2 linked regions of the Homo sapiens genome follow. The protein of the gene in region 1 interacts with the protein of each later gene in a biochemical or structural test. Each region holds a gene or a part of one and is shown on either strand. Other genes may lie near its edges. The genes, in order: TP53INP1 and HIPK2.

Region 1 (12,613 bases):
TAGTATCATTATTCACAGTGGGAGATCAGAGCCCCAAGCACCATCCTTGATTCTCTTTCACATTTCACATCAGTCCACTAAGCAGCCTTATTGTCTCTATCTTCAAAATAAATCTTCATCTCAGTCATTCATTTACCTCCCCCTCCACTGCTGCCATCCTGGTCCTAACCCCACCCTCCATCCTCTGAATCACTGCATCTTATTTCCTTGCCTTCCATCTACCCACTACGAGTGTTTCCTACACAGTAGCCAGGGGGATTCTTTTGAAATTATTGAATCCTTTCATTTCCCATCACATTTTGAATGAAATCTAGACTTTTCATTCTGGTTTGCATGTTCTCTCCTGACCCAGACCCTGCCCACCTCTCTGATCTGGTCTCCTTCTCCAGTCTCTTTCCCTCACTGCACTCTGGCCACACTGCTGGTCCTCTAAGCACCCCTGTGGCATGGTGGGACCTTCACACTCACTGTTCCTTCTGCTACTAGTCACTGATTAGAGCTTCACAGAGCTTGCTTGCCCCTTTCATCATGCAGGGCTTGGCTCAGAACTCACCTTCTGGAGAGGCCTTCCTTGACCCCCCAGCTTATATAGCACTTGCCCAAACGCTGGAAAACCCAGCACACTCAGGTTACTCTTATGACCTTTTAATAAGCTCTTACTATAGTGCCAAGCATTGTATTAAATGCTTACATGCATTATCTCATTAACCTCGGAACCACTGAAGGAGGCATTCTAATCATCCCCATTTTATGCAACAGGAAATGGAGGCTAAGAGAGGTCAAGCCTAAAGTCATTCAGCTTGCACTAAGGTCTGATTCTAGAATTAGGGCTCTTAACCATTAGATTCAGCTGATTCAGCTGCTTCTCACTTTAAATTCTGTTCTGAGTTATGGATTATATGGCTTCCAGGAGTTTAATTTACAGGACTGATTGGTTTCTATTGCACTTGTGTTTGAGCAGGTAAAGTAACTCAGGTGTATCAGTGTGTGCTAGGGAGGGACTTCTTTTCCAAACTATGGTTTTAAACATTCACATAATACAAAATGCAGGTTAGGTAGGCACAAATTCAAGCATAGGTCAAGACCACCTCTGTGGTTTCTACTTATAGACTTATTAAAGAAGATGAAGATATTTTGCTGTTGACTTTATGGTTTGAGGGGGCTCAAGTTCTCAGAAGTTATTAAAGCTTTTAAGCATTTTTCCTTTTATTTTCTTTTAAAATCCTATTTCCTTTTAATCTATTTGGGGTTCAAAAAAGGGAAATAGATAAATAAATAACATCCTATTTCCACATGGTGATTAGAGACAAAATACTTCAAATGAGAAGCACTATAGTTTGAACGTGTTCCCCAAAGTTCATGTGTTAAAAACTAAATCCCCAATGCAACAGTGTTGACAGGTGGACCTTTAAGAGGTGATTAGGTCATGAGGGCTCTGCCTCATAAATGGATTAATGCTGTTATCCCAGGAGTGGGTTAGTTATCACAGGAGTGGATGCCTGATAAAAAGGATGAGTTTGACCCCCTTCCTCTCATGTGTGTGCACGTTTTCTTGCCTTTCTGTGGGTCTGTCGACCTTGGATTTGGCAGACTCCACAACTGTAAGAAATAAATCTCTGTTCTTTATGAGTTACCCATTCTCAGGTATTCTGTTATAGCAACACAAAATGAACTAGGACAAGAAGGGTCTATGTGCTGGTAAGAACACACACTTACCAAAGACCTACATGTGCCAGGCACCTTTCTGCCTTTATTGTCTCTCCGAGCTGGTATTATTGTCCCTCTTTTACAGGTGAGGAAACTGAGGCACTTAGAAGATAAGCAACTGTCCCCATTCCAGAGCAGGAACTCCATAATTATCTGTTCTTTCCTTCCTTACCAGACAGCACAGAGTGTATTTATCTCCAGGATGCAACAGAATTGATTACCTGAGGCCCATTCTGTGAGACCTGTTCTCAGGGCTCTACAATTTAGTTCCAGGTTATAATAATAAACACAAAAAGTGACTTCTCAGAGATCTGTGGGCCTTTCTGGAAGTGTTGGAAAAGCCAAAAAGACAGCAAAACAATTCAAAGTTCTACGGCTCTTCAGCTTATAAACCTATGGGTCTGGTCAGGTCACCATCAGATACCAGATCATGCCAAATCCTCAGTTACACTGTGTAGCCTGAGAACAGCACTGCTCTTAAGCACAGCAAAGACTCTTCTACCTCAGGCCTTTGCACTTGCTCTTCCTGCTCCTGGACCACTCTTCTATGCCCTTTGGTTCTCAATGCTCAAATGCCACCTCCTCAGAGAGGCCCTCCTGACCACACTACCTCCCCACCAACTTCTCTCTAACCCTTTACCCAGCTTATCTTTCTTCACAGCACCCACTAAATTATATATTTACTTGTTTATTGTATCTCCTCTACTAGATGGAAGGTTCTTGAGGGCCAAGACTTTTCTGTTTTGTTCACTGCTGTATCCCTGGTGCCTGGCATAGAGTAAGTGCTCATTAAATAACTGTTAAATAGGTCAGGTGTGGTGGTTCATGCCTGTAATCCCAGCACTTTGGGAGGCTGAGGCGGGCGGATCATGAGGTCAAGAGATCAAGACCATCCTGGCCAACATGGTGAAACCCTGTCTCTACTAAAAACACGAAAATTAGCTGGGCTTGGTGGCACACGCCTGTAGTCCCAGCTACTTGGGAGGCTGAGGCAGGAGAATCTCTTGAACCCGGGGGGCGGAGGTTGTAATGAGTGGAGATCACGCCACTGCACTCCAGCCTGGCGACGAAGCGAGATTCCATCTCAAACAAAAAACAAAACAAAAAAATTCATCTTGCAAAATGTAATGGATATTTAAGAGAAATAAATGCCTACTCCTATCAAAGAGGAATAAAGCAGGAAAAGAGGCCCCGAAAGGATACTATAGAAATAAAAAACCTTGCCTTGGATGATCAAAACGTTTAGGCCTGGCTTTGCCAAAGCCATGAGAAACATGGACATTTAAAAGCATAAATTCATCTTGCAAAATGAAATGGATATTTAAGGTAGTTCATTCATGCAAAAAGAAAAAAAAAAGAATCCAATAAACGAGTTTTCCTTAAATAGGTAGATTATTTAGGCAGTGTGTGGCTTATGTAAGTAGTAACCATATCATCTGCATCCTTTTGAGAAGAGCAGAAAGGCACTTGCACTCATGCTGTCACCCTAACAAAGCAATTCATGATTACAGACCCACCTCAGGTTGCCTCTGGCATATGCGGACTGTTGGGCAGTGCCCAGAAGTATCAGTGTGAGTGAAGAAGTCGCTTTGGCAGCGGGAGTTACAAAAGCCCTTTGCTCACACACTTCAACTAATCTCTGACAACCGCCCCAAGAACGAGTCACATCTGCCCCACACAGTGCGCCTCTTCAAGCTTCATGGCTCCTTGGAGCTAGGGTGGTGTATGAAGGGCCATTCTGTATCATGTCTCTAGACCATATCCAGTAAGGGATGACCTTGCTTTCTGCTCAAAGGTTTTTTTTTTGTTTTTTTTTTTCTTGAGATGGAGTTTCCGTCTTGTTGCCCAGGCTGGAGTGCAATGGTGCGATCTCGGCTCATGCAACCTCCGCCTCCCCGGTTCAAGCGATTCTCCTGCCTCAGCTTCCCGAGTAGCTGGGATTACAGGAATGCACCACCATGACCAGCTAATTTTGTATTTTTAGTAGAGACGGGGTTTCTCCATGTTGGTCAGGCTGGTCTTGAACTCCCGACCTCAGGTGATCCACCTGCCTCGGCCTCCCAAAGTGCTGGGATTACAGGCGTAAGCCACCGTGCCCAGCCTCTGCTCTAAGTTTTAACATAAATAATTGGGTTACCTGTACATTCAGCCAGAAACTAAGAAGCCTTGAAAGTACTTTCCAGAAACTAGAGAAAATACTCTAGGCCTGAAGCGATCATTAGTTACAATCCAGCGCAGGCTATCCCACCTCTTGGGGACTCCCCCCTAGCACTGGTTACTGAATGAAGGGGGCCCGCCTCCTTTTTCCTTTCTGCTGCCTCAGCCAGCACACAGACCCTTTTTATTTTAAGGATTTTATTTCTAATCACCACGTGGAAATAGGGTTAAACAAAAAGACAAACATACAAAAGTCACAAAGGTTGCAGGGTCTTGAAAAGCTATTACACTTATGGCCCTGGAATAATTCTTGACTCCTTTCTGAGATGGTAACTGGCAGCCCAGTTAAACGCCTGTTTTCTGTTTTTATTTCAGAAAGCAGAAATCACAGAATCTCTTGCTTCTTTGTTCCAGGCTTTCTGGAGACCCAGTCAGATCCTTTCTTCCCTTAAGACAATAGATGTCACTGGAATGCTAAGTGATTGTTTATCTAAAATGCAATTTAAAAAAATTCTTGTCTTTCCCAGACACTTGGCAACATGCTGTGTCCATGGTAGAAGCCCAGCAGATCCTAACTGTTGATGGGTAGATAGAAAACGACCTAAGTGGACTTCACTTTGCCATTCTCCTCAGTACAGACAGAACAACTTGTTGCTTTGTGTTCTGAGGCTGCCCCAAGTAGCCATCCTATGGGTTGGTAGGAAACAACATTCTTTAGCAGCCTCGATGCAACTGGCAGGGTTATGGCCACAGCCTGCTTTCATAAGCAGGAGGCAGAGGCATTAGTTGCATTGTATCTGTTTGTTGGTGTGAATGTGGTCCTGCACTGTGAGTCTTCCAAACAAAACTTGAGGTTGAATCCCTTTTGTTAGGGTAGATAAGGGAGCGTATTGAGCTCCATGGAAAACAGACAGGAGAACTCTGACAGATGGGGAAAGGGTCACCCCCACAGCAGGGGGTCAGCCTGGAAGTGGGTACTATAGCAACACGCTAAGAATTATTCTGTGAATTAAAGGATGGTTGGATTCACTGGATCTGCCCAGGCAGGGAACCTGGCTGGGTCTTTGTCAGTGAACAGATGAAAAGCTTGCTTGCATTTGTGTAATTTGACAGTTTGGTTGTGTTCAGACAGCTCTACGCTATGGAGATGACATTACTCCTGAGTTTCACTGCATGCATTTATGTAAACCAGTGGCATACCAGGAAGGGAGGCAGTGGGAGTGATCCACCCCAGATACAGGCAGTACACAGTAAATTTGTGTGTCTGCAAAGAATTTTAAAATAAAATTGACTAAAAGTCAGTTTGCTTTTTATTATTATGCTCCAACAGTTCCAAACAATGTCGTGGTAAAGTACTCCTCCCTCCTAGGGACAGACTTCACCTATGCTGCCCTGAGGCACGCCCTCCTTGGTGCACCACTGGGAATAAACAAGCACCAGGTGGGAAGATTATAAATCAGCAAGAGAGTAAACAGAAAGCAAGTGACTCCTGAGACAAGATGTTTTCATCACAAACACTATTTGGTAGAGTTTAGAGTCACTGATCTGTGATGGGCATTTCTGTTAGCTTTGTGTTTTGGTTATCGCTGCTTTAAAAACTACCCCAACATTTAGTGCCTTAAAACAATGATCATTTATTTGTTCACAATGCCGTCATTTTGGCAGTGCTCCGTGGGGATGGCTTATCTCTCCTCTGTTCAGTATGGTGTCTGCTGGAGCTGGAACTTCCTAAGGGCTTTTCCACTCATGTGTCTGGTAGCTCAGCTGGGATGAGCTGAAGAGCTAGAGCTGGCCAGGCATCTCTTTCTTTTCACATAGCCTCTCCCTGTGGCTAGCAGGGTGGTCTCTCCTCATGGGTGGCTGGCATTTTCCAGAGTACAAAGCAGAAGCTGTGGGGTTTGCTTAATGCTTTTGCTTAATGACGAGGCTTGGAAGTCCTAGAACATTCTTTCTGCCACATTCTATTGGTCAGAGCAATCACAGGGTCAGCCCAGATTCAAAGGGAAGAAAAATACACCCACTTCATGATGGAGATACTGTTGTGGTCATCTTTGGAAAAATGATCTACTTCATATTGAATTTTTCTATCATAACAAGATGATGATTTCACATGTTGCTTTAACCATGATAAACCTTATCAAACTGGAAAAAGGTAGGCCTTTTTCTTTTTAAAAATTAGCCCCTTGTAATTGTCATCATACCTTGGTTCTGAATGTGGAGATGGCCTCTTCAATGGATTCCTAGGGAGAAACAAGAGATCATGGGGCTCCTACCATAGCATGTGGGAGAAAATATTAGAACAAGCCTGATTTGCAAAAACCTAAAATCCAAAGCATGTTCAAGTCTGTGAGACTATCTAGAACACAGTTTTAGCTCTTTCTCCCAAGATAAGGTCCAATGACCATCATATTTTGATCATTACTCCTTGGTGTCTGACAACTCCCTGCACTGCAATTTACATCCTTTAAAACCAGCATTGTTGGAAATGGACTGACTACATTGTGAGGGTCAGAATGTGAGTGTCTTTCAGATACTGTAATGTGTGATAGGCATCCCTCCAGGGTTGCTATACAGCTCACCCCAGGTCAAAGAACTACATCCCAGTCCAAACAGTATCCACATGAGAGCTGATAGGCATCAACGTTACTCACCTGCCTTTGCCAGACAGTTAATCCACCTATATGTGGGACAGAGCCTTGGTCTGGAAAACACTTTCAAGCCCACTGTCTCACTCTCTTGTCACTATAAATAACCTGGTGAGTTGGCAGTCCCGGCGTGAATGCCCACAATTTGCAGGTATGCAAACAGAACAGAGGGGCTAAGTTCCGTGGGTCACATGAGAGCTAGGCTGCAGCGCCTGGGGAGGCGGCCGTTCCCGCCCGGTGCGCTTGTTGTCCGCTGGAGCAGAGGCCCCCGAGCCTGCTGACCTCTCTGCCTTCAGGCCTGGTCTCGCAGTCCCTTGTGCCTCGCCTATAGGCAGGCGGAATCCAGAGCGTGCAGCAAGCCCGGCCGGCTCTCGGTGGCGGTTTCTACAGCAGGTGGGGCCTGGCTCCGTGATTGAGCGGCCTCTACCCCTCTATCTGGGGCCCAGCAGCGGCCCCCTCCCAGCACCCTGGCTACACGTCTAACCCTAGGCTGACCAGGTGGGGCTCTCGGAGGCGTTAGCCCCAGCCCTCCCAGGAGTCTTAATGTTCCTCTCACAGGAAAAAACGTTCTGCGCCCTTTGTGCCCCAAACCCTCGACCCTTCACTCGGCGAGAGGGGTCGCTGAGGGAGAGATCCACCTCTGCCCTTCCCGTTGCCCGCCGGTTCTTCCTCGCCCGCCTCTTACGCACCCCGCTCCCGCCGGCTCCTGGAAAGCCGGCCCCGGCCCCAGCGCTTCCCTCCCCGGCCTAGCCCCTCTCTCCCACCCTTCCGCTCGCCCAGGCCTTCACGCTCAGCTCCCGGTTTTTGTTGCCCGGGCTTGTTTCGGAGCTGAGCGCGCCGCCGGCCGGGCGCCAGGTCACGTGCGTTGGTGACAACCTCTCGCAGGGCGGCCCCGGGGCCCCCGCACCGCCGATTGGTGGGGCCCGGCCTGGCGCGGCCCGGGGCGGGGCAGCGGGGCCCGACGGCGAGCGGAGCGGCCGATCAGCTGTTGCGAGCGCTGCACAACAACAAAAGGACTTGGACTGGCCGGCCTGGGCGCAGCGACCCGAGGGCTGGAGCCGGCCCCGCGCCTGCCGTCTGGGTACCTGAACGAGGTGCAGCGCAGCCCGGCCCCACCGCAGCTACCTCAGCAGTCCCGCCCCGCCCGCGTCCTTCCCCGCCGAGCCGGCGGCCGCTCCCTTCCCCGCGCAGCCCCGCACGGCCCGGGCCCACGTAAGTGCCGGGGGGGGGCGGGCGGGCGTCCGTCCAGGGCCGCCTCGCTGCCGGTTGGGGCCGCAGCGCTGCCCGCTCCTGAGCCCGGCGGGGCCGGCCGCGCGCCCTGCCTTCGGGGCGCCGGTTGCGCGTTCACCGAGCCCCCTCGCTGCCTCCCCTCGCCGCCGCCGGGCCCGGCCGCCCACCCAGTGGGTCGGTCCTCGGCGGCCCCCGGGGCCCAGGGCGCGGACAGAGGCTGACAGAGGCGGCGGCGGCGCGGACAAGGGCCCGGCCTGGCCCCGGCGCTGGGCGGCGGTTGGGAGTTTGGTCTCTGCCTCCTCCCCCGAGCGTGGCTTGTTTTCTTGGCCGCGGCGGGACCTCCTCCTCTCACCCCTCCTCACTCCCCTCCACTCCTCCTCCTCCGCCTGCTCTCGGCCGTTGGATGGGGCCGCCCCTTCGGGACTCGGCGTCGGGGCTCCCGCGGCCACCCCCGGGACGCATCTCCGAAGACAGCGGCGCTTGGGCTTGTGGCCCGGCGCTCTGTCCCCGCCCTGCGATCCCGTCCCCTGCGCCTGCCCTCCGAGTTCCGGAGGCCCTGCGGCTATGGGGAACCTGCTCCGTGACCCGGCCACCGGCCCCCGCCTGTCCGCGGCCTGTCCCTTGCTTGACCTGGCTTGAACTCAGTCTTCGCTACCTGACTTTGCACCTGTGGAAAGAGCGCTCTCCTTGGCCCTTAACATTTAGATCCTTTGGATCGCTCACGCTTACTGAGCGCTGAGTATGTGCCATATACTATGCTGGGGGCTTTGCTTTATCGCCCCAGTTGATTCTCATAATAACCTTATATGAAATAGGCCCGGCTATCTTACACATAGGAAACCCGAGGCACAGAGAGATTAAGTTGCTCAAGGCCACACAGCCAATTAATAAAAGGAAATGGTGTTTGTATTTCAAAGTGGCAGCTGAATTTTACCTGGAGAGTCTGTTTTGCTTGTATTTTCTGATTATATCTGCTCAGTAGGTTAATTCCAATACAGAGTGGATTAAGGAAGAGCCTCTTTACAACTGTGACTCCCAAGGACTTGGGCATCTATTGCTAAAAAAGCCTTTTCTCAATGCACAATAGTTTTGGGAAAAGGGGGAACAATGTGACCCTTGGGGTCACTGAACAGAAGTCATAATGAGTTCCCCCACGATACTGAAATCACCAGCCTGGTAATTGAAATACATTTTCATTTGCAGATGTGAAAAGCACTGGGAAGCTTTTAAGTCGCAATCAGTGTAATTCTGAACTGGCAGCATAATTTTAAAAGGCCCCTGCCTGGAACCAGGACCTTACTAATTTCTGTGACCAAGGTCTTGTTTTCTCATCCTATCTTTTGTTCTTTCCTGCCATTGCTTCCTCTGATGTCTGCTTTCAAAATTCAAGATTATCAGGCTATGAATTACCACTTACTCTTGTCTTTGTCCACTGTCTTTCAGCCTTAGGGGCAGACAGGGGTGGATCCCTGGGGGAATAACCTCCCTTGCACACTAGTTGAACAGTCTTCACATAAGTGGAACAAGCAAAGACAACTTTTTTGGCTTGGTTTTTTCTGCAGTTCAAAATCCATTTTAAATTACTTGAATCTAGTCTTCATATAAGTGGAACAAGCAGAGATAACTTTCTTGGCTTGGTTTTTCTCCAGTTCAAAACCCATTTTAAATTACTAGAATCTGCACGTTTTTAAAGTAGTGGAAGAGGGTGGGATAAAAAGAAGGATAATTCTGAAGCTGCTTTTCAATGACGGTACGTTTAGCCACCTGATTTCCTGAAACTGTGAAGGAGCCACAACTGTACACAGATTTAGAAGTTAGATCATCAAACTTGCGGGTTTTTTTTTTTTTTTTAATATTTTTTGGAGCCGCCTACTGGCAGCTGAAACTAACTGAAAAGGGCTGTTTTCTGAAGTTCGTAGACCCATAGTTGAGACTGGGAGCCTAAAAGAGCATGTATAGGGAAAACAAGGAATTGGAATCAGATGGATTTTTGCCCTAATGCTGACTCCACCCCAACCAACTCTGTCACTTTTGAACAAGTTAGTTAATTCCTCAGCCTCGGTTTCCTCATCAGTAAAATGGGACAAATAAGTACTTCAAGGCCCCGTTACATACAATAAGCATTCTGTAAATTGTAGCTCTAATTATTAAGTAGACATTTTATGGATAAAGAAACTCAAATGCAGCGATGCTAAATGACTTGTTGACAGTCTCACAACTGGCTTTGAATGAACCGAGGTCTGCTATTCTAAGTAGTATACACTTAATCCTTACACTGGCACTGTGAAGTAGGTATTATAACTATCATTCCCATGTTAAGGATGAGAAAACAGAGACACCAAGATGTTAGTAAATATCCTGAATTCACATAGGTTGCAAGTAGCAGAGCCAAGATTTCAAACTCCAGGGCCTGTCTTTTTTTTTTTTTTTTTTTTTTTTGAGACAGGGTCTTACTCTGTTGACCAGGCTGGAGTGTAGTGGTGGGATCACAACTCACTGCAGCTTCAAACTCATGGGCTCAAGCGATCCTCCTACCTCAGCCTCCCTGGTAGCTGGGACTACATGCACATACCACCACACCCAGCTAATTTATTTTTTGTAGAGATGGGGTCTTGCTTTGTTGCCCAGGCTGGTCTTGAACTCCTGGCTTAAAGTGATCCTCCTGCCTTGGCATCCCAAAGCACTGGGATTATAGACATGAGCCACTGCGCCCAGCCTCAGAGCCAGTCTTTAAGTACCACAATATACTGCCTCTTGGTGGGCTGTCTTAAAAGTGACAAAATAAATTATGCTAACAAGATCTTCCAAATTAGCAGTTCCTTTTCTAAGTGGTCAAACTAGAATGCTCTTCCCCGTGAGTATTAGACTCAGTCAGCCACCTTTCTCTGCCTACAAAGCATCTCTACTCATGTAATAATATGAAAACCATTGATGATAAAATGTTAAGTAACAGTGAGATACAAAACAGTGCATTCACAAGACTATAACTATGATAAAAAGAAGCCTTATGTGTAGAAGAAAAAAAAAAACAGAAGAAAAGGCACCAATGTGTTAAGTGGTGGGAACAAGGCAATGGAATAATACTTATTTTTCTTATTTTCTAGACTTTTTATAATGTGGTTTTGTTCAGTTTATAATTGAAAAGACATAATTTATTTTTTAAAGGGAGGGATGGAGGTCTTTTGAGCCAAGCAGAACAAGGACAAAGCTGCCTTCTTGAAATGCTAGGGCCCAGACACTTTGTTTCTTTTCTGTATTGAGGGGTTCTTTTCTCTTGTCGGGGAAACTGCTGGACTGACGCTGGTTAAAGCTGTTCAAAGAACAACAGCGCTACTTCACCTAACCTTCTTTGCTTCACCTCTTTGCTGAATTCCAGAACTGTATTTGTAAGTTTGTCCTCTTAGGACACATGCTTTCTCTGGAATTTTTATTTTCGTTCTATGATTGCCCTAGCATTGTGAATATTAGTGGTGATCTGGGGAGGAGAGGAGTCTAAAGCTCTACTTTTCCATTTACCTCCATGTAGAACCAGCCCAGTTGAGAGCCTCCATCCCTGGGCAGGAGCCAAGGTCAACAGTAGCAGTGACTGGGCAGGGACAGTCTCTGGGTCATCAGTAGGAGGGTAGGCCTTTAAGACTTTTTCTAGAACAGTCCTGTTCAACAGAAATAGATAATGTGAGCCACATGTATGTTTGAATTTTCTAGTAGCCATATTTAAAAAGGAAAAAGAAACTGGTGAAGTTAATTTTATTAATGTATTTAATATACTAAAATTATTTTTTCAACATGTAATCAATATAAAAACTGTTTTGCATTTTGGGGGGTACTAAGTCTTTGAAATACACTCTAGTGTGTACTTTACATATACAGCACATCTCAATTCAGATACAAAGTTTTCATTTGAAGTACTTGATCTATATTTAGACTTCGTAAAATTTATAGGTGAAAAAGTAGATTCATACCCTAACTGTTCCAAACATACTTGAAAGTTTTCAAAAAACTAAATTATCAGCTTTTAAGTTTAACTGGATTAAACTTAGTAAATGGATTAAATAGTAAAATGAAAAATGCAGTTTCTCGATGATACTAGTCACATTTCAAGTGTTCATGTGCACAGTGTGCCTGGTGGCTACCTCAGTGGACAGTTTTAGCAATGGGGGGAGGGTCTCTCCAATAGCTCCTTGCCTTTTGTGACACCTGCAGAAAGCAGGGCCAAAGGAATTTGGCTTTGCTAGTTAAACCAGCCTCACTTTTTTGTGCTAGAAGTTTGTGGGGAAAGAGAGTGACGAGGTGATTCAGCGCAGTCTCCCCATTTTCCCAACAGTGAGACTGAAGCTCAGAAGGGCCAATTTAGCTCCAGCCACCTGTAGTAGAGCCACAGCCAGAACTGCTGCTGTGGATGGCCAGGCCCCTTTAACCCTCCCCAGGAACTCCATTCTGTGTTCTTCCCACGGGTGTCAGCAGATGTGCCATGTAAACACCAGCAGTGGCTTGAGTGAGATGAAGGATGAGCTCCTCCCTCACTTGGCTGGGCTTCTGAGCACTCTGTCGCCCAAGGTTGGTTGTCCTTGCAGAGATATGGGACATCTGGAGGCAGCCTCTGACTTTGGGAAACCAAAAGAGCACTGACTTGTACTGCTCCCTAGAAAGCTCCTCCAGAGAAGCCTTTCCTGTATCTTACTTGCTACTTGCATATATTCCAGGCAGAAGCTGCCTTCCTGGGTTTGGACCTGTGGCCAGAGGGGGCAATTTGCATGTGGGAACCCAGCAGCTGTCACAACTGCAGTGGCCCCAGCAATGTTTTTTGGCCTTACAGCTGCCAGTTATCTGACCTGGGCCCCAGTGCCTTACTCTCATGCAGCATCACAGGTTGG
Region 2 (12,704 bases), on another chromosome or scaffold:
TTTCGGCATGAGAGACTTTGTCAGCTTTATGGTAATAAGGAATAATGTCTTACAAATAGTGGACTTTAATTCTTCTAACTATAGCATATATTTTAATGTCAGTTTTATAGGTGCTATTTTTCATTTGTCATATGCAATGAAGAGTTTATTATATATAGTTGTGTAATAGAAGTTGTTTTAAATTTTAATAAATTTGTTCTTCAGTGCTTTTTACTTATCACTTCTGTAGCAACCACATGAACTCGTGTCTGTGTAATTAACAAGCATGTAAGAACCCCATGCATATCTGAGATTCAGTGTTTATGACTTCAGCCTGTTTATGAGACAGAGTGGTATGGTAATAGGCATGCTACTTGTTAAAAGCTTTAGTTCTAGGTTATGGTGACTCCCTGTCCTTTAGTGAATGAAAATGTGGCCATTTTGACAGGTTTTATCTTGGGAGGCCACTAAGGCTTTTGTGGAAAAGTCTGGGTCAGGTCATTCCTGTAGGAGCAGGTGTGGTTATGGCAGATTTATCCTACCGTGACCTCCTGGGTTCCTCTTACTGCTCCCCATGGGCTCGAAACTTGCCCTCCCAAGTCCAGTAGTCCCCCTGGTCTCTCACCTAGAAGGAGTAAAATCCGCCTTCTCTTTCAAGAGCCAACTAGGAAGTGCAGAGATAACTTAAAAAGCAGTTGAGATTTTGCCATTGGATCAAACTGACAATGTGCATTAAGCCTCTGTTTTTCCTGAAAAGGATATTGACAAATGAGGCGGGAAGTAGCCTTGACTAGTCCAGAGGTCAATACAGAAAGAAATGAGAGGAGACATTTAGCTTTTACTTTCAAGTGGAAAAAAACATTGAGTCCCCCTCTGCACCCCCACTTTATTGTCCCTCACTTTAGGATCTGAATAAATAGAGAAGTAATACGTTGTGGGCTCAACTCTCTGAAAGCTAAACTAATAGGGAAGGTTTGTTCCAGAGAAATACTCTCAAGGAGAAATGTTTGGAAATAAGTGTGTTGCCATAAGATTATTTTAAGATTAAGCTACAAAACCACCAGCAGTGTCTTATTCCTTATGAAGGTATTTCAGGGATTTAAAAAAGTATTACTGTTAAAGACTTTAACTATATCTTGTTGGAGCATTTTGCTGCCTGAAGCAAAGTGGCCTCTGCTACAGAACAAAGGTAACACGTCTGCACTGAGCGTTGGGTCCAGTCATTGGAATAGCGGCTGTTGACTTCATAAAGGGGCAGCAGGGGCCACACCAGGCCAGGCCGGAGTCTGAGGCAGCCGGCTGTGGTGCAGGGTGTTTCCAGCCATGTAGGCCTCCTGTCTGATCCTGGGCATCTGTCATCAGAGGCAGCCAGTGATGATTTCCACAATTTTATGACCCTTGGCTGTCATCCCAATAACAAATAAGTCATAAGCCACCCTCTTCCCCTCTGTAAAATTCCACTTCTGCACCGTGGACGGCCTTTCCACCAAGATCTTTTTGAAACAGTGAAAACAGAGACTAGCACCTCACCTTCTTTATGTATGAACAGCGTATTTCTGCTGTCGCTCTCTCTGACCGCCCCCTTCCGGGTACTTAAAGACTGAAAAATAAGCAGCAGGCTTGACACGAAAGGATGAAGGAAATGGCTGTTTTGCTTTGACTCTTCAGTGGCTAAGTTACTGAAAGCCAAGTAATTGGTCATTTCTATATTGTATACAACATCTAGAACAATATGGATATTCACTTGATACTGATAAATAGGGAATAGCCATATTCTGTGTTGTTCTAGAATAAGGGGGATGTTGACTTAGAATAAGGGGGATGTTGACTTGAACAAAAAGAACAGTGGGAAGAAACGGGTGAAGTACGGATTCTGAATAAGCAAGCCAGAATAGTCTTGTCAGGCACGAGGATTCCTACAGACGTGCAGTCACAGTGCGTAGATGGAGGTCGGAGCTCAGGATTGAAGCAAGAAGGGAACACCCTCCAGCAGATCCATGGGCCCAGGGTGGAGGTGGGGCTCCAATCAGGTGCTGGATGTTAGCAGAACTGCCCCTAGGAAGTCAGAGCTGAAGTCAGATGGTACATATGGTAAGTGCTGTAGGAACAGTGAGTTGGGAATGATCACTGGGTTAGAGTGGTCTGGAAAGAGAAGGAATCTAAGCTGGCTGGTCTTTGGATAAGTTGAGAAAAGCAGCAAAGGCATGCCAGGTAAAGGAATAGTGTAAGAGTGTGAAGATAGGAAGTATAAGAGACATTCTAGAAACAGCGAATAGACCAGCTTCATTCAAGTTAAGGACCCAGGAAGGTTAGTAGAGCTGGAGCTAACAAGGTAGTTGGAATCAACATGTAAATGTATCGAGTTCTCAGCTTTATCTCCTTGACAGTAAGGAGCCAGTGGAAGTTTGGAGAGGGGAGTGGCATGCTCAGAGATGTTTTAGGAAGATTAATCTGGTAGCCAAATATAGGCAAATTAAAGGGAGACAGAGTGCTCAGGTAGATGAGATGTCTAGATTTGCTTTAGTCCTTCTAGAAAGTGATAAATACATTCACTGTGGAAGTGGCAGCAACAGCAGAAATAAAGAATTGGATGCAAGAGATGTTTTGAAGGAAGGAGAAATTAATAAGGCTTAGCACCTTCTTGTCTATGAATGTAAAGAAGAACCATCATAGTTCATAGTTTTGGAGCCAAGTGACTAGAACAGTCATGGAGATGTTAGGATAGAGGGTGAGATGGCTAGATTTTTAGGAAAAAATAAGGGGTTCAGCTTTGGAAGCGCATCTTTGACATTGTAGCAGGAGGCTGCAATATATCACTGTAACCTCTGAGGGAGAGCCCAGCCTGTGATAAACATGTGGGGGTCACCTACACAGAGGTGACGGCTTAAACTGCTTGAATGGATGATAGCTGCCAGAGAGAACAGAGTCAAAACGGTGGAAATGCCAACATTTGAAAGGAGGAAGAGGGCTGGGTGCGGTGGCTCACACCTGTAATACCAGCACTTTGGGAGGCTGAGGGGAGTGGATCACTTGAGATCAGGAGTTTGAGGCCAGCCTGGCCAACATGAAACCCCGTCTCTACTAAAAATATGAAAATTAGCTGGGCGTGGTGGCGCACACCTGTAGTCCCAGCTACTCAGGAGGCGGAGGTTGCAGTGAGCCGAGATAGCACCACTGCACTCCAGTCTGGGCGACAGAGCAAGACTCTGTCTCAAAAAATAATAATAATAAAATAAAGGAGGAAGAGGAACCACCCGAGCACACAGTGTGCAATCAGACACGGGATGGGGAGATTACAGATTCACTGAAGTCCAGAGAAGAGCATCAAGAAGGAAGTCGTGGTCAGCAGTATCAGATGTTGCAGAGGTTAAGAAGAACGGGCTGAAACAAGGCCATTGGATTAGGCAATTAGGAAGTCATTTACCTTCAAGAACAGGAGCCTATAGTGCATTAACGAGTTGGGGGAGATGGATTAAGATGTGGGCATTGAAGAAAAGGGAGCATAAACCATTGATCACAGGTGAGAGGAGGGAAAGAATTAAGAGGGGGGAATGCGGCTGTTACTCCTTTTGCCTTCCATGTTGGGAGTTTGTGTGTGCACGCACATGAAGGCAGAAGAAAAAGATGAGGTGACCGATTCATTTGGACAGCCATATTAAGTTCCTACTAAATACTTGGATCCAATTAAGTACAGGGAGAAATGGAAAGCTACAAGAGAAAGAACAGTGGTGGAAGCAGGTTCAAGAGAAAATGGGACAAATATGGATCATGAGAATCGGGAACTTTTTTAGTATTGGAAAAGAGCAACACCTCTTTCTCTCAGACTGGAGAGAAGGAATGAAGGATGGAGGATGATGTAGATTCAGGAATGTTCTGAAATGAAGAAGGAAATAAAGGAGGAAAGTAAGGCTGACCTCAGGCTTCTGGACAAAGTGGAAGTTGGGTCATCTACTGAGAGAGAAGGTGGACTAGGGTGATGGTTGATGGAGTGGAAAGGATTACCACTCTAGGTAATGCCAGGGGCTCAGAGAGACAGGAACACTAGGTTAGCCAACCCCCAACAGGGCTTGCAGAAGCTGCACTTCCTTGTGCTTCTGTGAGAAATGTTTGTTGATAGTGGCTTAGAAGATGGGCAATGTTTGTTACTCTTTTAACCTTTAAGGAGTTATCCTTCATCACCTTATTATTTTTGCTTAATATATTTTCTATGAATTTTTGTTTCAGTATCACCGTAATTTGTACAAGTGTTCCAGAATAACGGTCTCATAGGTTTCTAAGTTTATCTAAATTGTGGATGAGATGTTGGTATGAAATAATAGTACTTCTGGCCAGACACGGTGGCTCACGTCTGTAATCCCAGCACTTTGGGAGGCTGAGGCGGGTGGATCACCTGAGGTCAGGAGTTTGAGACCAGGCTGGCCAACATGGTGAAACCCCATCCCTACTAAAAATTCAAAAATTAGTCGGGCGTGGTGGCAGGAACCTATAATCCCAGCCTTTGGAGGCTGAGGCAGGAGAATGGCTTGAAACCTGGGAGGCAGAGGTGGCAGTGAGCCGAGATCATGCCATTGCACTCCAGCCTGGGTGACAAGAGCGAGACTCGGTCTCAAAACAAAAACAAACAAACAAACAAAAAAAAACAAAAAGAAATAGTACTTTCTAGAGAAATGTATTGATATATGAATTTAGCAGGAAGCGTGAGTGAATGGAGCCATGAATTGTGCTACCCAGTCCCCACCAGTAAGGCTGATAAAATGTTTTATGCTGTTGAAATGAAAAACGTCAGACCAACTGCTGATCCACTAAACCCTACAGAATCGATGACAAAGATGCCAGCTGGTAATTAGGGTTCATCCAGGATCCAGAAGATCCTGAGTGGCCTGGTGATGGGGCCTGTGTGGGAAGATGTTTTCTCAAACCAGTAAACTTGACAGGGTCTGTGGACAAGGCTGAGCTGATGATGTGGGCAACGAAGTACGTGACAGCAGAGCCTCCTGAGTTTCAGTAGAAAGCAACCCAGGGAGAACTGAGGAAGAATCCATTTCTGTCACAAGTAATGTTTACAAAAAAAAATGGTGACCTATGTCCTGATATTGGAATTCTGTTTCTGAGTCTCAGCTGTGTTGCTGGCACCTAATGGTGGCAAGTGGCACCCTGGAACCACTTGGTTCCACAAACTCAGTGACCAGAATGTGCTTCTGGGTGGAAGAGATTCACTTTTTCAACCTTGTTTTCAAGTGGGAGGAATATATTCTGTATGGCCCAAGCCACAGATGAGAACTGAAGGGGATCTGTTGAGTTTACTTGTACCAAGGTGACTCCGATACTTACTTTTCGTTTTCCTTTCCTTGTAGGTATGGCCTCACATGTGCAAGTTTTCTCCCCTCACACCCTTCAATCAAGTGCCTTCTGTAGTGTGAAGAAACTGAAAATAGAGCCGAGTTCCAACTGGGACATGACTGGGTACGGCTCCCACAGCAAAGTGTATAGCCAGAGCAAGAACATCCCCCTGTCGCAGCCAGCCACCACAACCGTCAGCACCTCCTTGCCGGTCCCAAACCCAAGCCTACCTTACGAGCAGACCATCGTCTTCCCAGGAAGCACCGGGCACATCGTGGTCACCTCAGCAAGCAGCACTTCTGTCACCGGGCAAGTCCTCGGCGGACCACACAACCTAATGCGTCGAAGCACTGTGAGCCTCCTTGATACCTACCAAAAATGTGGACTCAAGCGTAAGAGCGAGGAGATCGAGAACACAAGCAGCGTGCAGATCATCGAGGAGCATCCACCCATGATTCAGAATAATGCAAGCGGGGCCACTGTCGCCACTGCCACCACGTCTACTGCCACCTCCAAAAACAGCGGCTCCAACAGCGAGGGCGACTATCAGCTGGTGCAGCATGAGGTGCTGTGCTCCATGACCAACACCTACGAGGTCTTAGAGTTCTTGGGCCGAGGGACGTTTGGGCAAGTGGTCAAGTGCTGGAAACGGGGCACCAATGAGATCGTAGCCATCAAGATCCTGAAGAACCACCCATCCTATGCCCGACAAGGTCAGATTGAAGTGAGCATCCTGGCCCGGTTGAGCACGGAGAGTGCCGATGACTATAACTTCGTCCGGGCCTACGAATGCTTCCAGCACAAGAACCACACGTGCTTGGTCTTCGAGATGTTGGAGCAGAACCTCTATGACTTTCTGAAGCAAAACAAGTTTAGCCCCTTGCCCCTCAAATACATTCGCCCAGTTCTCCAGCAGGTAGCCACAGCCCTGATGAAACTCAAAAGCCTAGGTCTTATCCACGCTGACCTCAAACCAGAAAACATCATGCTGGTGGATCCATCTAGACAACCATACAGAGTCAAGGTCATCGACTTTGGTTCAGCCAGCCACGTCTCCAAGGCTGTGTGCTCCACCTACTTGCAGTCCAGATATTACAGGTAAGACCGTCCACAAGGAGACAGGAGCTGCTGAATGCCCAGTGGCACTCACAGAGAATGTGCCACCTTAGTCACTGTGGGGAGATAAAATTATATGTCTACAGTTCCTGCCTTCAAGTGATCTTAATGTACTTACGAAATTAGGACATGTGCACATTGCGATGTCAATTAGAAGTCACATTAGAACGGAGCCAGGTAAGATCCGTGGCACAGGTGTTCAGCGTTGGAAGGGCTCCCTGGGACCTGGGGTGCAGAGCAGAAGAGTTCCGTCCTCCCGGATGGGTAGGATCCAGACAGGTGGTGGAGAGAGAGGGATGTGCCATCCACAGTCCGCAGTCACACTAGTGGGAATTTACAGGAGACAAGAAGGACACCCGCCTGGCCAGAACAGTTTGTGAGTGGTGGGAGATGTGAGTGAAAGCCTGGTTGGAACCAGGTCACTGGGGGTCTTAAATATCAGATCAAGGAATTGCAACTGTATCCTCAAACCCAGAGCAAGCCCTGGAAACCTTGAACAACATAAGGTAACGGGTTGAAAGGGATGTTCCGAGAAGGTTCCTTGTCTATCCACGTGCAGAAGGGCTGGAGGAAGGGAGAGACTAGTCTGGGGCCAGCTGGGTGGCTCCTGTGGTAAGGTGACTTCAGGCTTTGGGTCAGGATGAGGGAGGAATGATAGTGTCCGTGGCAGGGAAGTGTGTTCAGTCATGGACTCACACATGCAGTCATTCAACAAGCTTTGATTTCACTTTTAATATGTGCCAGCCGCAGTGCTAGGTATAGGGATATAGACAGGGCCCTTGCCATCCTGGGGTATCTGGAAGCTTTTCAGGGACCCCTGTATGCAGTCAGGATTGGAACCGCTGCCGACATGGAGCTGAGATCGGAGTGCTGGCTTTGGAGTCAGGAAAGGCCAGAGTGAACCTGGTCCCTCCTCTCCTAATGGCCTGATTTCTCCATGCCTTCATTTCCTAACCCATGAAGTGGGAGAAATCCTCTCACCAGCCTCGTGGGCAGCTGGGAGGTAACATGGCTGTAACATGGCTTAGGTGTGTCACTCCGTGGCTGGCCATGGCGGGTGCACAGCGGGGAGGCGGCAGGGATGGAAAGCAAGACCCTGCTCTGTGGAACCAGCCTGGGGGTGTGTTTGGGGTGGTGCCGAACAGTGCAGTGGAGATAGAGGTCACAAGAAACAAAACTGAAACTCCCATGAGAAGATGGGACGGATGCACATTTAAGAGCGTGCCACGTAGGCAGGAAGACCGGGGTCCCCGGAGGCCATCCTGCTTGCAAGCAAGCACGCTCGCTTGCCCGTGTGCTTTCTCCATGCGCCTTTCAAGGCCACAGAGAGAAGGCTGGAACATGCCCCAGGGCCTTGTCGACACAGCTGACCTGTCACCCATTCCTGGGGCTGACCTGGGCCAGCTTCCCCTTCTTGCTCCCTGTCCGGGCCCCCATCCTGGCTGCAGGCAGAGCTGTTGCAAGTCTCCTCCCAGCCCCTCCCTCAGCCTGCTGGGCACCAGGCCCTCCTTCCCTGGGAGAGCAACAGCCCCTCCGTTCGGATCCCCAGATGCCCTCCCACCTTCCACCCCGTCTCCTTTCATCCTAATCCTGACTCACACAGGAGGTTTCGAGGCCTCTTCACCCATGCTGTTTCTGTCTCTTCCCTCTTCCCTTTAGGAGGCATTTCCTGAGTTAGAACAGCTCTCTGCGAGCCTCTTCTCTGCCCTGCCCTGAGGATTCCTTTCCCGCTCATTTCCTATGCGCAGAAAGGTCTCCACAGGCCTGTGCTTTCACCACCAGGCCCCGTGCGGACAGACGGGTCTACTGCTGCCCCTCCACTTGCTCTCCACTCCCTCGTCCTGACCAGGCCATCCACTCTGTGCCCCGCTGGCCCCAGAGCCAATGGCAGGGAGAAGTAAGCCCAGGGCAGGAGCCTCCAAGGAAGACAAGAAGCCTCTCCTTGTCTCCAGAGGAGAAGGATGGGCAATGGTTGAGTGAATCTGGAGGGTTGGGTGCCCGGTACCGACAGCACATATTCTCTGTAGAGAGTGCCTGGGCCTCTGAAAGCCAGCTCTGGTGGCCGTCCCGGGTACCAGCCCCATTGGGGGCTAGCTGGTGCTGTGCTGGCTCTGGGAGGCTGCTGTGCCACTTCGTATTTAGGTTGGTAAATTCAGCATGCCAAAGGCTGGCTCTTTCTAGTTCTTGGCCTGAATTCAGGGTGAACAGCCCCTGACTTGGCTGCTAGGGCTTTTATGTAGTTCATCTGAATTGCTGCATCATGAACACGTACCAGTGTTATTAACATTCACTGAAAGCTAGCATGGCGACTTGTAAAAAGACTTCGACAAACTCTGTTTAAAAGGCAGCACATCCTTAGAGCGAAACTTGGTGAATCGAGTAAGCTGAATTGGGGATTCTTAAGACCCCCTTGTCATCTTGCCTTCTGGTGCCCATGTGACGCTTCCTGGAGCCCTCCCTGCCCATCCCCTTGGACTCTGCGAGTTTTTCTTTGCTTTCCTGCCTGGTGCTGGTGCCCCTAGTGCTGAGGAGACAGGTCGCAAAATCGGGGATCCTAGCTCAGGAAGCCTGCGGCAGCAGTAAAAGTTTGCCTGTGAGGGTTGGGGAGGGCTGACTCCTTCACCTGGACTCACAGCGATCCTCTCCTGCCCCCCTCTGTGGGTGAGATCAGGCCTTTTGGACGCCTCTGGTGGGTGTGGTAGGCTGGTTTGCTGGCGGTTCCTGGGCCCTCAGGAGCCCTCTTTTCCCCACTTCGTGACAGGCACAGTCACATCTGGCCCCTGTGTCCCCACATCCCTCTGAAGGACCCTCCGTTTAGTTGTGATAGTACCCTCTTTTCACCCCTGAAATCACCATTGCCTAAAATTCTGAGCAAGAAGGCCTCTTTCTCCTTTCTGTGGTCACCTTCAGGCCCTCATGTCAGCCTCCCTGTGCCCAGCCCTGGTTCCAAAAATACGGTCAGCAGGAAAGACAGCGGCTCTTCTGCCTGAAATGAGGCTTCATTTCTAAGTTGGTGCAATGTTCTGTTTCTCCCTCAGGCCTTGTCTGAGCCCTGCAGTGGTTTGCCACCATATAGATCGATCCGATTTTTCGAGGACAGTCTCTAGTGCTCTGTCTCTTTTCGTCCCAGCTGTGTGGGACAGCCAGCTCTAGGCCATGTTTATCAAGTTGATTTTCCTGGTGGCTTTGCCTCTTATAGGAAAGAAAGGGGGCAAGAAAAGCTCTTTAATTGTCCATCGTTAAGGCCCATGTCCCAGAAAGAAGACGCTTTCAGATGCTTTCAGCTGCATCTGCATCGTGAGGGAATGGCTGTGTGTTTGAGCCGCCTGGGCTGGAGGAGTCATTGCATGCTGTGCATCCAGCCTCCCAGCAGGTTGGCCTTTGTCCTGCAGGTGGTGGGTGGGGACTTTCTCCCCTCGGCCCCCTGTATCTGAGCTGGGCACATTATCGTCCCAGGACATCTGACTTTCAAAAGGTAGAGTACTTATGTGTCCCTCTGTCATTTTGCATGGGACTGGGCTAAGTGTCTCATCCCACCATTGTCCCCACCTAGTGACACAGAAACGGTGTGAGACAAGGATATGTTATCCTCGCCTTGGGGACTTGGAAAAGGAGGTGGTGTCCCCGGAGCCAACTGTTTTCCCCAGCTCTCAGGCATGTGCCTGGCCACAGTGGCTGTTGGTATTCTGTGAGGCAAGCCCACTGGTGTGTTTTTCAGGAAACAAAGGCTGCTTTTTAAGTTTTTTTCTCGAGTCTGAAGCAGGGGTATTCCCTTCCAATTCGAAGGTCAGTTATGTCATTAACTGTCAGCTGCCCAGGTTCTCAGGCTTTACTGTGCACAGGAATCTCCTGGAGAGGTTGCTGGGAACAGAGTCTCCCTGGGAGTACCCTGGGAGAAAGTCCACACCCACCACCACAGAGACTTGCCTCAGAGAACTGGAGGTGAGCCAGGCAGGGGGTCTTAGGACCAGTCTTTGAGAAACACTATTCTGAAGGACAGAGGGATTTTCTTAATGGTGTCACCTTTCAGGTGTTGACACCCAAAAGAACAGAGTTGCAGGTAATCCTTGCTTGTATTACTTCACCTTGGGCGCCCCTGCCCTTTTGTTATTTAATTCTACATTGATGCCAGTTCATTTTGTTTGTTTTTAGTTTTTTTGTTTTTTTTTTGAGCAAGCAATAAATTGGTACTGGGGTATTTCCATTATCAGCAGAACCAGTAAACTACAAATAAGACCAAATGTTAAACTCCACTCTCAGAAAAAAACACAAACAAAAAGACATGCCATTCAGGCAAAGGGTAATCAGTGATTAAAATATATAGATTTTTTTTGGTTTCTACTCTGGATTATTCAAAATATTCTTGTCTAGAGTTTTTTGAAACACGTAGGACTGTTACCAGGACCCAAAAATTGAACATAAAAAATTAGGACATGAAAAATAGCAAATAATCCACTTTTTCAGAATAATCTAACCTTTTTTTTTTGAGACGGAGTCTTGCTCTGTCTCCCAGACTGGAGTGCAGTGGTGCGATCTCGACTCACTGCAAACTCCGCCTCCCAGGTTCACCCCATTCTTCTGCTTCAGCCTCCTGAGTAGCTGGGACTACAGGCGCCCATGACCACGCCTGGCTAATTTTTTTGTATTTTTAGTAGAGATGGGGTTTCACTGTATTAGCCAGGATGATCTCAATCTCCTGACCTTGTGATCCGCCTGCCTTGGCCTCCCAAAGTGCTGGGATTACAGGCGTGAGCCACCACGCCCAGCCTTTTTTTTTTGTCTGATTCTTTGGGGTGCAAAGACTGTCTTCAAGTTGATTTCATGGTGGTTTTAGGTGGGGGTGTGTATTATTCCATTCTTGCATTGCCATAAAGAGCTACCTATGACTGGGTAATTTATTAAAAAAAAAAAGGTTTAATTGACTCACAGTTCTGCGGGGTGTATAGGAAGCATGGCTGGGAGGCCTCAGGAAACTTACAATCATGGAGGAAGGTGAAGGGGAAGCAGGCACATCTTATATGGCTGGAGAAGGAGAAAGAGAGAGGTGGGGTAGGTGCTACATGCTTTTAAACAACCAAATCTCGTGAGAACTCACAATCACAAGAACAGCAAGGGGGAAGTGTGCCCCCATGACTCAGTCATCTTTCACCAGGCCCCTCCTCCAACGTTGGAGATCACAATTCAACATGAGATTTGGGTAGGGACACAGATCCAAACCATATCAGGGTGGAGATTAATTTTCAGTTCAATTCATCAAACATTCATTACTGAGTGTCCCGTAGTAGATATGTGCTCCAGAGTGCAGAGGGTAAGGCATGATCCCTAATCTTGCAGAGTTCACAGTCTCTTTGAGGAGATGGAAAACACAAACCAACTGCCAAGACTGTCATTCTGATGCTTCAATATTTTAAATGTTTGGTCATTCAACAGAGATTTATTGTGAACCTACCTTCTGCCAGACTCTAGGGAAACAATGATGAGCAAAGCCAGTTCAAGAAATTAAAAGTCAGTGAAAGATTTTGCCAGATGGGTTAACAGGGAAGTTAACATGAGATAGGGATGGGGAAGTCTAGGGGTCATGGAGACTGGAATAAATAAGGGAAGATGGGAGAAATGATGGTGACTCCTTAGACAGTGACACCTGGCGGGAGTCGAAGGCCTGTACTGGAAAATAATAATCCGGTGAGTGAAGCCTGACAATAGAGAGTTTTGAATACAGGCTTGAGGGGCTTGGGTTGAGCCAAAGTGCCAGAGCTGGGAGCCATTGTAAATTCTGGAACAAAGGAGAAGTTTAATGAAAATTAATGATGGTATAAATCAATTGGAATGGCAAAGAAAAAAAAAAGTTGTGGGGATGTTTTGAGAGCCAGAGGCTAGGAGACAACTGTTGTTACTCAGGAATGAAGGGATGAGGCCCTAGATTATAATGGGGGGTTCTACCCCCCGATAGTATGAATGTGGACATTGTTAGTGCATTTAACTTTTCCGATGCTTTGATTGCAGAATTGACTTAGAGGGAATAGCTTTTTGTTTATTTTGCTTTCTTTTGTTTAATGACCTTGCTGTCTCTAAGGCTCAGTTCTGAAGCTCCAGTCTTTCAGAGCCTAGTTTCAAATCCCACCACTGCTATAAAGAAATAGGCTCTGAAAGGAGAAACCAGAGACCTTAGCACCAGTCCTAGCCCTGCCCCAAGCTGTGTTCCATTGAGTCACGGTCAGTAGAATGTCAGCTGTGACTGTCCACACTCCTCCATCTGGATCCCATTATGA

The links.
Region 2: the proteins of TP53INP1 (region 1) and HIPK2 form a complex in vitro, tested with the Homo sapiens proteins (one study listed by BioGRID).

The regions. Positions count from the first base shown.
Region 1 is NC_000008.11:94,944,262-94,956,874, reverse strand, and holds the start of TP53INP1 (tumor protein p53-inducible nuclear protein 1), read left to right. Parts: upstream 1-7,496; 5' UTR 7,497-7,721; intron 7,722-8,530; exon of another isoform or gene 8,531-11,392; intron 11,393-12,613. UniProt on the Homo sapiens protein: Antiproliferative and proapoptotic protein involved in cell stress response which acts as a dual regulator of transcription and autophagy. Acts as a positive regulator of autophagy.
Region 2 is NC_000007.14:139,709,645-139,722,348, reverse strand, and holds part of HIPK2 (homeodomain-interacting protein kinase 2), read left to right. Parts: exon of another isoform or gene 1-3,456; coding exon of another isoform or gene 3,457-3,499; intron 3,500-5,333; coding exon 5,334-6,417; intron 6,418-12,704.